Linked DNA regions of Homo sapiens. The protein of the gene in region 1 interacts with the protein of each later gene in a pairwise test. Each region holds a gene or a part of one and is shown in the gene's direction. Other genes may lie near its edges.

Region 1 (6,717 bases):
TGAATATGCCAGCACTCACAAGTCCCCTCCCATAGGCTCTGGATCTCTCGGCCCCCCAACCTTCCATCAAGGCCTGTCCTTCCTGTGTTTCATCTTAGCAGTACTCTCCGTGCTTTCCAAGGTGACAAATCTCTAGTCTCACAGGCAGATAGGAGGGCAGAGAAGCAGTCAACAAGCAGGCAGGTGAGCAGACAGCAGATAAGTCCTGGGCAGATAGGCAGCGAGGAGGTAGGGAGGAGATGGGCAGGTGGATAGTTGGGATGAGGGCCAGAACAGCAGGTGACACACGTGCAGAGATCCGAAGCGGGTGGCTGGGCTGACCCACGGACAGGCTGGTGGGCTGGGGAGCAGCAGGCAGTCAAGCAGCTAGGCAGGGGGTGGGGAGGGCATGTGGACCATGGGGACAGCCACATTGGCCAAAGGTTTCAGGGACCTTCCCCAGGGCCTCCAGGAGCAGTGCTTCTCAAAACCCTCCAGGGCAAGGCTGCCGCTTCTCCCACCTGGCCTGGCTTGGCCACGGCAAGCCCCTGGAGAAGACAGCACTCTGGTTAATGTGCGTCCCTCTCTCTGAAGCAACCAGCAACCATCATCTCAACCCTCATCCTGCTCCACTAGGGCTGAGTCATACCTGACCCACTCCAAACACATATGTCACATACCAACCCAGACACAAACATACTTTTGCCTGCAGGCAGAGATACAGAGAGCTGCGTAGCACAGAGGTGCATGGAAACAGCTTGACAGAAACAGATCCAAAATTTTAGACTGCACATAGAGGAGCACACATGTGGACTCTCACAGACACAGGTCTGTGCCACATGAACTGAGGCACTGAGGCACACAACACACGTAGTCATACAAGCACACTGTAGCACACACCGATATTCCCGTGGATGGCAGGCATTAAACATGCTCATGCACTCCCAGCAATGCTGCACATAAATAAGCTACCTGTGCAAACAGTCACTGACATACACCCCTTGAAGAAACAGGAATACAACCCACAGAAACTCAATATTGCTGATGGTCTTCAAATCTCGGCCAAGGCAGTGGGCAAATTCTGGCCTCATCTTCACCTCTCAGCCCAATCACACATGGCTGATCACATCCCTGTTCTGGCCTGGTTCTCCTTGCTGACTTCACCTCCAGGAGACCCCTCAATGGGCTCGAGCTTCAGACCCTTCTCTCTCTGCCCCCTTACCCCAGATGTTCGGTCTCATCCACTTCTGGGGTGGTAAATCCATCTTATGTGGTAAGGACTCTCAAATATCATTTTCAGCCAGATTCCTGGGGGTTCTACTTGCATTGCCAACACCTGCACCTGGATATCTAATGGACATTTCAAGTCTAACCTATCTACAGTGAAACTGACTACCCCCAAACCTGCTTCCCCACATGGGCTTTCCTCAGGTGCCCCAGCCCAGTATGAAAGTGTTCTAAACTCCTCTCTCCCTCACATTCAAGTCCAGTGCAGGAACTCCCTTCAGAACACCACCTGAGTCTGAGCCCTCTCGCCTCTCCACCGGCCCCGCCCTCACTGGCTTGGACAGCTGCCAGCCTACTCACCACCCTCCCTGCTCCCCTTCTTGCCCACAGTGGCCCACCCTACACTGAGCCACCACAGGGATCTTTCCAAAATGTGTCACAGGGCCATGACACTCCCCTGCTCAACGCTCCAGGAGCTCCCCACCACACTTACATTAAAAACCAAGCTCCTGGCCGGGCACGGTGGCTCACACCTGTAATTCCAGCACTTTGGAGGCCAAGGTGGGCAGATCACCTGAGGTCAGAAGTTCGAGACCAGCCTGACCAACATGGAGAAACCCCATCTCTACTAAAAATACAAAATTAGCAGGGTGTGGTTGTGCATGCCTGTAATCCCAGCTACTCGGGAGGCTGAGGCAGGAGAATCACTCGAATCCGGGAGACAGAGGTTGCAGTGAGCAGAGATCGCGCCTTTGTACTCCAGCCTGGGCAACAAGAGTGAAACTCCGTCTCAAAAAAAAAAAAAAGAAAGAAAGAAAGAAAAAGCTCATCAACAAGGCCATCGAGTCCCTGCACGGGCAGCCCCTGCCACTCTCCCCTGCACCCACACACCATCTGCGTGGCTTTCTTCCCTTGGAGGGAGGTATCCCAAGCATGTTCTTACTCCTGCCCAGACACTCTCCCCAGATCCTGGCACAGCTGCCTCCTCCTTAGGATTCAGGTCTCACTGTGGATGTCCCTGTGAGAGCCACTCCCAGGTGTTGTCCATCGCATTACCCTATCCTGTCATGCCCCCCAGCACTTAGAAGCATCTGAGATTATCTTCTATTGTTTCTCCAATTTAGTGTCAGCTCCATGAGGGCAAGGATTTGTGTCTGTTCTGTTTATTGTTAAATCCCCATTAAAACTATTCCTCAGGGCTGGGCGCGGTGGCTCACGCCCGTAATCCCTGCACTTTGGGAGGTCAAGGCAGGTGGATCACGAGGTCAGCAGATCGAGACCATCCTGGCTAACATGGTGAAACCCGGTCTCTACTAAAAATACAAAAAATTAGCCAGGCGTGGTGGCAGGCGCCTGTAGTCCCAGCTACTTGGGAAGCTGAGGCAGGAGAATGGCATGAACCTGGGAGGCAGAGCTTGCAGTGAGCCGAGATCGCGCCACTGCACTCCAGCCTGGGTGACAGAGCGAGACTCCGTCTCAAAAACAAAAACAAACAACAAAAAAAAAACTGTCCCTCAGTATTCTCAGGGGATTGGCTCCATGACCTCCCTCCCATAGACACCAAAATCCAAGGATCCTCAAGTCCTTGATGTAAAATAAATTGGTTCAGTATTTGCATTTAACCTATACACATCCTCCTGTATACTTTAAATCATCTCTTGATTACTTATAATATCTAATATAATGTAACCGCTATGAAAATACACTATTGGCCGGCATGATGGCTCACACTTGTAATCCCAGCACTTTGGGAGGCTGAGGTGGGTGGATCACTTGAGCCCAGGAGTTCAAGACCAGCCTGGGCAACATGGCAAAACCCCATCTCTACAAAAATTAGCCAGGCATGGTGGTGCACGCCTGTGGTCCCTCCCAGCTACTTGGGAGAATGAGATGGGAGGCTCACTTGAGCCCAGGAGGTAAAGGTTGTGAATGAGCTGAGATAGCACCTCTGTACTCCAGCCTGGGTGACAGAGTGAGACCCTGTCTCAAAGAAAAAAAATTAAATATATCTATTGTTTAGGAAATAATGATAAGAAAAAAAGTCTGTACATGTTCAGCACAGATGCAATTTTGGTTTTGAATATTTTTGATGCAAAGTTGGTTAAACCCACAGATGCTGTGGACTAGACTAGGAAGTGCTAGGCATACACAGTATTTGTTGACTAGTGGCTGCACAGATTTATATACAGACATACCCGCCCCCACAACAATACTCAAATACATCACATTAATAGACAAATATACAGATGTGGGCAAAAATACCTGCCCGCACATTCACAGAACACACTAAACAGTCACAAAGACACCCAGGAGTCCCTTTTCCATCCCCATAGGAGTCAGTCCTAGTCCTCCCCCATCTAGATCTGCCCTCTACTTGAACCCAGTCTCGGGACTGGGGGAGTAGGGGTCTGCAGCCCGGACAGGGAGAGGGTCGCTGGCCCACAGGCCTCAGGCAGCGCCTTCAGCTATGTCTGCAATTTCCTCTCCCCCTTTCCTCCTCCTCTCTAAGGCTCCCGCCAAGGCGGCCTCCCCCTCATTCTAGCTCCAGCAAGGGAGGGGAGGTCCATGATGGGGGGGCCCCGTGGAGACAGGGCAGAAGGAAGCCCCCCGCCACACACACTGATCACACACCACATTGCATGCACAAGCCCAGGTGGGAAATGCGTGTGTGAGCACAGGCAGGTTTAGCCTTGGGGTGGGGGACGGGATGGGGTGGGATCTGCCACAAGCCGCCACAAGCTGCTTGGTGCACAAGAGCGCAGGAGCTCGCAGGCACAGAGGCCCCACGCTGGGGTCTGCGAGACTGCTGGCCGGGCCCTGGCTCAAAGCTGGAGTCCAACAATCATTAACCCTGCGTGACTAGACCAGAGCTCGGCCAGGGGACACATTCAAGCCTGGGCCCTGGAAGGAGGGGTGGACAGTCCCCTCCCTTCCAGTCCAGCATGGGTCTGGGGAAGAGAAGCAGCTTTGCCTGGAAGGGGCCTCCTAGGAGGGGGAGCGGTGGTTTCTAGCTCAGGCTTTAGGATCAGAGAGCAGCAGATTCAAATCCTGACGGTTTTGGTAAAGTCAATTCAATCTCTCCAAGACTCCGTTTATTTGATCTGCGAAGTGGGGATAATGGTATCACGTCGCAGGGTTGTCAGGCGGAGTAAGTGAAAGAACCTGTCCAAGGTTTAGCCCTTGGCCCGCACGCAGGCAGAGCTCCAGCCTCTCTGTTGTTGCTGTTAGTGGCCTGGGGGCGGGTCCCTGCCGCGGCCTCCCCGGCGGTTTCCTGTGGGGGACGGACGGCCCGCGGGCCGGGCTCTCCCTCCTCCCGGCTGCCCGCTCCTCTCCCCTTCCTCTCCCAGCCCTTTTCCTCCCCGCCTCCCCGCCCGCCCCGCCCCGCCCCGTCCCTCCTCTTTCCTCGGAGGAAACTTTCCGCCGGCTGGTCCCTCGGTCCGTGTCCCGCCCGTGCTGCCGCGGCCTGGGAGCCCAGCGGGGCCGGAGGGGCGGCGGGACCCGAGCGGGCGGGGGCGGCCGGACCCAGTGTATGCGGCCGCGGGACGCGCTGGGGCCGGGCAGCCGGGAAGCGGGGCGCTGACGGTGAGTGGGCCTGGCCCCGGGCCGGTGGGTCCCCGCGGGGCGGCCGGGCGAGGAGAGAGGCAGCTTCCCTTCCCGGAGCCCGCCTGGGGCGTGGAGGCTCAGCGTCCCTATCCTCCATCCCGCCCCGGGACGGCGGAACCGGGCCTCAGCTGGGGACCTCACCAGGGGGCGGGGCCTCCCGCGGTCCCCGGCGCTGCTCCCAGGACTGGAGGGGCGTCCGCGCCCGGGAGAGGGGTTCCCCCCGACAGGGCCCCGGGCCGCCACGAAGTTAGGGAAGCGCTCTCTCCAGGGTGGAACCTGGGCCCGCGGCTCCCGGGAGAGGAGCTGCCCGCGGAAGGGGTCGGGGTGGGCTCCAGGCTGGGAGAAGGATCTGACTTTGCTGACCTCGCAGGCTGGTAGGGGAGCTGCCCCCCAGAGCAGCATGGATGCCCCGCGAAGGGACATGGAGTTGCTCAGCAACAGCCTGGCTGCCTACGCGCACATCCGCGGTGAGGGCGGGCGCCGGAAGACTGGGGGCCTGAACCCTTCCCTGACCACCATCCCCTTCCCTCCCCAGCGCCTTGTCCGTCCCCTCCGCCCCGCTCCCCGCCCTCTTGCCCGCTGGCGGTTCCCTAATGCCCTTCGAGTAGGGGTTACAGGCCTCGCCCCCACACCTAGAACCTGGGGTCTTTCGGAAGTGGGACAACCCCCACCCGTCCGGGCCTCTCCGTGACCCCCGCCCTGTGCCCCGCAGCCAACCCCGAGAGCTTCGGCCTCTACTTCGTGCTGGGCGTCTGCTTCGGCCTGCTGCTCACCCTCTGCCTGCTCGTCATCAGCATCTCGTGGGCGCCCCGCCCGCGGCCCCGGGGCCCGGCTCAGCGCCGGGACCCCCGCAGCAGCACCCTGGAGCCCGAGGACGACGACGAGGACGAGGAGGACACGGTGACTCGGCTGGGCCCCGACGACACGCTGCCGGGCCCCGAGCTGTCCGCAGAGCCGGACGGGCCCCTCAACGTCAACGTCTTCACGTCGGCGGAGGAGCTGGAGCGGGCGCAGCGGCTGGAGGAGCGCGAACGGATCCTGCGGGAGATCTGGCGCACCGGGCAGCCGGACCTGCTGGGCACAGGCACGCTGGGGCCCAGCCCCACGGCCACGGGCACCCTGGGCCGCATGCACTATTACTGATGGGCCCCGGCTCCCGCTGCAAGGCGCTCGGGGTACCGGACCTGCACATGAGCTCAGAGCTACCCCACACCTTCGGACTGCCTCGGCCCCCACAGCTCCCAGGTGCTACTGGGCGTGGACCGCCACCCCCTGAGAGGCTCCCTTCCCCAGTCCTGCCAGAAGACCCCGGGGGCGGGGAGGGGGCAGCATGCAGGGTCCCCACTCCCTCTCTGGGGTCGATGAAGAGGTGAAGTGACCAAATGAAAGAAAGCTGCATTCTCAGTGACTCAGTCTCTCCCTCTGTTACTCCTGCCCCCAGCGACCCCCAGGCTCCTGCCACGCAGGGGCCCCAGGACTGAGGCCCAGCTTGACTCCCTTACCCTAGCTGCACCACCCCCACCCACCAACCCGACGATACAGCACACCTGCCCGCATTCACTTCACAGCCAGCAGAAAAGCAGAAGCCCACAGGCCTGCACCCAGCCTCACACACAGAGCAAGCGCGCGCGCATTCCTTATTCAAAACGCATTCCTTACCGGCAAACGCCTGGACACACGTCGCCCTGTCCCCACAGTGCCCTGGGTTCATACACTGCAATGACACACACACCAGGCCTCAGGACCCTGACCTCGAGGCTAAGGTGCTGCTAGCCCCGGTGTAAGCATGCGTGCTTGGGCTGGACGGTGGACTTCACGTCTGCGCCGAGGTGCGTTCAAGCGAGAGGGCAGGAGTCCCTCTGAGCGGACAGGGAGGCCAGCTGGGAGGGGTCCGAGCTGGCGAGAAGG
Region 2 (7,000 bases), on another chromosome or scaffold:
TACATTGCCCAGTTTCAAGTTGTTTTAGTCCGTTTGTGTTGCTATAAAGAAATATCTGAGACCAAGTAATGTAAAAAGAAAGGAAATACTGTACAAGTAGTATGGGACCAGCGTCTGCTTTTGATGAGGGCCTCATACTACTTCTACTCATGGCAGAAAGCAGACAGAAGCAGATGTGTGCAGAGAGGGAGAGAGAGAAAAGGAGGTGCCAGGCTCTTTTCAACAGCCAGTTCTTAAAGAAACTATGAATGAGAACTCACTCCGAGCCATTCATGAGGGATCTGCCCCCATCATCCAAACATCTCCCAACAGGCCCCACCTTCAACAGTGGAGAATAAATTGCAACATGAGACTTGGCAGGGCCAAACAAACAATATGAAAACCATAGCACTAGTCAATTATAAATTCAATTATTTTTTCCTATTACAGTATTATTTTATGTAGTTAAGCAGAAGTGTTTACACACACATAAATCATCAAACTGCATTACTTATAAGACATTTATAGTTTTTAAACTAAATAAATAATTTGCATTCAAGCAAGTACCTCATTTTGTTCTTTTAAACAATTATTTTATTCATTCTATTGCTTAAATTCTGCCATGTTGTATTTCAGAATTAATTACTAATGTATACCTATACAATTTATTCTTAACGAAAGCTTTATGACTGTGAGTTTTCAATCACAGTATTATCTAAATTGCTCCCATTGCTTCATATGAAATAAATTCAATGATCCAAAAATTTACCTGCTTTAATTTTTCTCTTCTTATTTAAAAATGATAATATTTTGCAACATGTTCCATAAGTCATTGAACACTGTGGCACTGTGAATTTTCAACCAACTTAGAGATGTCAGATATTCTTATTATTATTCATCACTGGTTTACTATAAAATCTATTTTTCTTTTTTCTCAGAACTGAAGAGAGATCTGGCCAAAGACATAACCTCAGACACATCTGGAGATTTTCGGAACGCTTTGCTTTCTCTTGCTAAGGTACAACTCAGATACTTTAGGAAATGCCTCTTGTTTTATAAAGACTAATTTCTTAGTCCATTTTGTGTTGCTATAAGGGAATATCTGAGGCTAGGTAATTTTTAAAGATAAAAAGGTTTATTTGGCTCAGGATTCTGATGGCTAACAAATTCAAGTTTGGGTATCTATGTCTGGTGAGAGCCTCAGGCTGCTTCCACTCCTGACAGAAGAGGAAAGGGAGCTGGTGTGTGCAGAGACCACATGGCAAGAAAGGAAGCAAGAGAGAGAATGGGGAGGTGCCAGCCTCGTTAACAACCAGCTCTCGTGGTTCTCATGAGCAAGAACTCATTCCCAGTGACGGCATTAATCTCTTCATGAGAGATCAGCCCCAGGACCCAAATACCTCCCTCTAGGCCCCACCTTTAACACTGGGGATCAAATTTCAACATGAGGTTTGGAGGGGAAGAACATCTAAAACCATCGCAAGTAAAATCTTGTATCTGAGCTCCTTCTAGAAATGAGTAATAGAATACCTTTTTCTCAAAAAATATTATTTATCTGAGTTTAAGATAATTAAGTAAATCATGCAATTACATGCTAGAGAAGAGCTTACAATAGAATGGGATTTCTTTCAGGGTGACCGATCTGAGGACTTTGGTGTGAATGAAGACTTGGCTGATTCAGATGCCAGGGTAAGGAAGTGCTTACAAAATACTGCTGCAGTTCATCTTCCTACCTTAAGTGGGGCTACCACATGATCCCCTGTGAAAGCAAATCTAAGATCTTCTGAGAGACCAATGGCTTCTTAATGTTCATTTCCTGAATGAGGCATGTCTTTCTGTAGCCCCCACACACAAAAAAGTAGTCTTTGTAAGTTTTCAATATCTCTCATTATTCGTAAAACCAGAGAGAACTGAAGAAGGACAATACAAATTTGATTTGTCATTCCCAAGAATTGTTTGTTAAAAAAAACTCTGACCTTTCGTTGTACTAGGTATAAGAAGGGGAAATGTAATTTTTTTATTATGTGCAATGGAAAGAGTAAGCATATTTAACGTTATTTTTAACAGAGAACTTTGGAATGGTTTATAGATGTCAATTTATATTGTCAAAATATTACTGCAATGATATAACAAGAGTATAGGATAAATTATAATAATATATGCTTTCTAACATATTGTTTTATTTAGTTTCAGTGACATTGCTGATTATTTATATGCCAAACCACTGGCAACATAAGAAAAATCATATCATTTTAAAGCCTGGAATTTCCATTTAAAACAAACAAACAACTAATATTTGCATTATGCCTTCTCATGGAACAGTATTCTCTAGAGAATTCATTACAGTGCTTCACTAAGGATAGAGATTTCTTTGTGCACCCCCATCCACTTCTGCTATACCAGTACATTATCATGTACATAATAGGCACTCATGAACTTTTTGTTCAACAAATGCATACATATCAGATCAATTTGCTTGAAAAATGCAAAATAATTTTTACATACATTGAAGGTTTTATCATTTTAATAGAAATTGTTCAAGCATATTAAGGAACAAGAGTTAGCATTTGAATAATTGCCCATAATAAAAAATTCTTATTTGCTTTTGACATTTCTGAATTTGCTTTCCATTTTAAGACTATCAGGGTTCTTAATATATATTTATGGAGGTTACATGGATTAGTGTGACCCAAGAGAATGATGGTAGTCAACATTTCAAAGTTAATAAAGACCGCTTGTGACAATAGGGCAGGGATTATATTTTTCATATATAAAAGAAAAAAATCTGTCATTTAGTAAGGTTGATCTATTTGTCTAAGATTATGCAGCTTTGAAATTGCAGAGTCAGAATTTGAATACAGAAATTCTAACATCAAAATGCAAGGTCCAGGTTACGGTTGAATTATTGATTTATAAGTAACATTTGCTGATAATTACTTTGAACAACACAGAGTAAAAAATCTTTAGAGATCCCCTTGGAGTTGTCTTACTATAGAGCATAATCTTAAAGCAATTTAGTTCAGCAAACATTTATTCTGCAAACATATATTCAGACTCTAGTGTTTACAAGGCACCTTGAGAGAAACTGTGGAAGATATTTGACAAACAAAATAAGGTCCCTATCTTTAAAGAACTTGCAATCTTATTGTTGACTACTCTGATTGTATTGGGCACAAAGCGATTGCCTATATAATCTTTGACAAGGTCTAACATTATTGTGCAGATATCATTTCAGCAGATAGTGAAGTGTTTACTTTTGTGTTTCTTGACAGGCCTTGTATGAAGCAGGAGAAAGGAGAAAGGGGACAGACGTAAACGTGTTCAATACCATCCTTACCACCAGAAGCTATCCACAACTTCGCAGAGGTAACAATAAATTTCTTTTTCTGGAATCTGTTTATGGAAGATGCAATTTTCTTTTTTGATGACAAATAAGAGAAAGTAAAAACAGAACCCTTTTTCAATATCACTCCTGTATCAAACAGATACAGTGTTCCTGACCCATTGTTATTTGTCAATTTGTCCAATTTTGTACAGCCGCTACTTTATCATATTTAATACATTTTGTGACTTGGGCATGTGGAACATAATTTTGTTATTTTCACTGCTTTTACTCCCCTAAAAGATTTGGAATATGTGTGGGAAAAGACATGCATAACAGAACAAATGAAATTAGAATGAAGAAAAACAAAAAAAAAAAAACAAAAAACCCTCAGAGCTAAATGAAGAAAGAAATATGTAGGTGCTTTGGAAAAACAACAACAAGACAAAACTCAGAAAAAGTCCTGGCCTTTGAGTGCAAGATTTAGCTCTGGGCCTCTTGGAAGTGAAGGCGATGGAAAAGTTATGACAATTACCAAAGTTCACCATCTTATAATAGTATACTGATTTCTACTGTTAAATGTAAGAGAAATTTAGTGCACAGGTCTTTATATAAGGGAAGATCCATTTGCTGTGGCTCTTAGAACTGCTGTAGGAAGTGCTATAGTTGTCAATCACATGCCGTTTCTAATAACTGTCAACATTTGCAAACATTTCGCCAAAATATATAGGAATACCAAAATGGCCAGGTAAGTTACATTCCTAGGAGAGGATGAAGTATTCACGTTATGATTAATTGGGTATATTGCTTTAAAAGGTGTAGCCAAAGTTGTTATTCTAAAAAATTCTTTGAGTCAGTTGCCTTGATTTTGCTAAAGCTTTCTAAAGAAAAGGATGTTTTGCATGTATCTTAGTTTGAATTTAATATTCAGTGTTTCAGAAATACACCAAGTACAGTAAGCATGACATGAACAAAGTTCTGGACCTGGAGTTGAAAGGTGACATTGAGAAATGCCTCACAGCTATCGGTATGTAGTCCAGCAGTTGAAAGAGTTTTCTAACTAGAAATTGTATTTTCAAAGCTATCCTATACTTAACAAGAACAACAGCAACAAAACCAATAAAAGAAAACAAAAAACAATCAGAAGTAGTGCATCTGTTTCAATTGAAGCAACGTAAAAGATTGGCAAAGTACTATAACCTTAATAACAATAGATATTATTCCCCTTTTCAAAAATAGAGAGAGATAGACTATACTTATTGAGCACCTACTTATATCAAACAATGTACCAGGCTGGGCACACCACAGAGGCAATTCAGAATGGTCACTGAGAGCATGGGATCTGGAATAAATGTAACATCTGGATAAATGTAACTTCAAGTCCTGGTCTACTGCTTGTTAATTGTACAATCTTGGGCAGGTCCAGGAGAGTCTGATTCAGTGGGTCCGAGTTGGCCTCTAAAAATCGGTACTTTTTAAAGATCTCCCAGGTTATTCAGACAACCATCAGGGTTGGGGAACCTATGTTCTCAAGCAGTGTTTCTCATTCATGACTATGCACTTGAATCCCCTGGAAAGCTTGTTAAAATGCAGATTCTGATTCCCCAGGTCTGGGGTGGAGCTTAGATTCTGCTTTTCTAACAAGCTCCCCATTGATGCCAATGCTGTTGGTCCATAGATCTCGACAAGATGAAGAACACTATGAACTGGAATGTGCTAGTATTATTTGGGTTCTGTTTTATATTTAAGCCCATCCTATCCCAGAGTTTTTTCTTCATTTATTCATTTATTTTTACTTATTTGTTTGTGCAACTCTTACTTTAGACACAGAGGTACATGTGCACGTTTGTTCCATGGGTGTTCTGCACTCAGGCAGTGAGCATAGTACCCAATAAGTAGTTTTTTGACCAATGCCCCTTCTCTCCCTGCCCTCTCTAGTAGTCTGCAGTGTCTGTTGTTCATAGGGTGTTCTTTTTAAATGTTCTTATAGTAACATAAATAAAGTATTTACATAGGCTTGAACACCTAGTGGCTTCTCCACTCCCAAGGAGAATATATGTTGGATAGCGCAAACTACTGAAGTTGCTCTTGAGATGTATTTAAGGTAATAAAAAAATTGATCGTCAGGGAAAAGAATATTCAAAACCACCATCTAGAGAGTCACAAATACCTTCTCAGAAGTTAACTGCCCTATATTGGGAGATGAGAGGTGAAGAATGATGATGAGGGATAGAACACTGTTGGCAAAATTCTATATTTCCTGTTTCTTTCATATGGATATTTCATTTTTTTCATGGTAAATACATCAACTAAAATTTTCTTCTCTAACAGTGAAGTGCGCCACAAGCAAACCAGCTTTCTTTGCAGAGAAGCTTCATCAAGCCATGAAAGTATGTACCATTCTACTTATATGTCCTGCTTAGAGGAAGAATTATTTGTAGAAAGAACAGAAAACCTCATGTTGTTTGAAAATCTCACATTTAATATCTTCCCATTAATGAGAATCATTGTTCTATTTGATGAAAGAGGTAATACACTACCTTCTCAGAATAAACTTCTGTTAGATTCGGTGCTTTTTTTTACAGATGAGATTGTAAAGTGAGCCTGTAAGTGATTTACGGCTCACTTGTGATTTGCTTAAAACATGTGTCACCACGGGAAGGGTGATGTACTTTCTTTTTTAACGTGTAATTTTAGTGGCCTACTTCCTCTAAGGTTGTGAGTTTTATAATCTCCCACTTTATGAGTCTGATTTGTTGTTTTTATTATTCTGTCTTTTATGCCACAGATTAATAGTTGAAACTTTTGAAATGTCATTCTATGATTAAGGATGTAGAATGATGTATTTGAGATCAACTATGTCACTTTAACTTTACTGTCTGACATGCATGGTATTATACAAGGTACCTCTTCTATTCTGACATTTTGAGCCCACAAATGAATAGTTATGAAGTTATCTTCCTTTTTTCTTTGCAGCTCCAAAATAAGGAGGTTTTCAGAGAGAGAGAGAAAGAAAGATCTAACTATTTGAATAATATGAAGGAATATTTTGAATATATATGAATAATTTGAATAATATGAAATGATAGACATGCTAGGTACTGCTCTGTAGTGGTTAGCATAGTTGCTGCCCCCTTTCTGCCATAGTCTAGTGTGATATTTCGTTGGGTAATGATGAATACCTGGTGCCATGGAAGAGAAAAGTGGGACATATACTCCAGACTTTGGAAATCCAGGTAGCATTGCTGTCAGCTAAATTAACACCTGAAGTTTAAATAGAAATGAGCCAGATGAGGGCAAGAGTGGAAGAGATGGGGATAAAGCAAGGGTGGTCCAAGAGGAAGAAGTAACCCACACACAGGCTTGAAGGCAAAAGGTAACATAACCTTCTCAAGACAGTAAGTATAGAGTGATGGTGCACACTGGAAGAGATGGTAGAATTAGGCAGGATATTGTAAGCCTTGAAAAAGAATTAGGCAGGATATCGGAAGCCCTGATTAGATTCTATCCTAAGAGCAACAGAAGATCACTGACAGTGTTTTAAATAGATAGACTAGTTTATTAGATTTGCAGTTTAGAAGTTCCCTTTTTTTGTAATTATTGGACAGTGTAGAGACCGGATGGTGAGAGATGAGTTAGGAAGTTGTGACAGCTCTCTATACCTACCGCTAATGTAGAGGATTATTTATTTTCATTTCA

What was found. The genes of interacting proteins can lie anywhere in the genome.
Region 2: the proteins of EVA1B (region 1) and ANXA1 interact in binary tests that used the Homo sapiens proteins (3 or more experiments, as listed by UniProt).

The regions. Positions count from the first base shown.
Region 1 is NC_000001.11:36,321,530-36,328,246, reverse strand, and holds EVA1B (protein eva-1 homolog B), read left to right. Parts: upstream 1-4,601; 5' UTR 4,602-4,788; exon of another isoform or gene 4,789-5,179; 5' UTR 5,180-5,209; coding exon 5,210-5,276; exon of another isoform or gene 5,277-5,521; coding exon 5,522-5,952; 3' UTR 5,953-6,217; downstream 6,218-6,717. Other genes in the region: SH3D21 (SH3 domain-containing protein 21), read right to left, coding at 367-527, 6,469-6,523.
Region 2 is NC_000009.12:73,161,865-73,168,864, forward strand, and holds part of ANXA1 (annexin A1), read left to right. Parts: intron 1-917; coding exon 918-997; intron 998-1,611; coding exon 1,612-1,668; intron 1,669-3,251; coding exon 3,252-3,345; intron 3,346-4,232; coding exon 4,233-4,328; intron 4,329-5,632; coding exon 5,633-5,691; intron 5,692-7,000. UniProt on the Homo sapiens protein: Plays important roles in the innate immune response as effector of glucocorticoid-mediated responses and regulator of the inflammatory process. Has anti-inflammatory activity.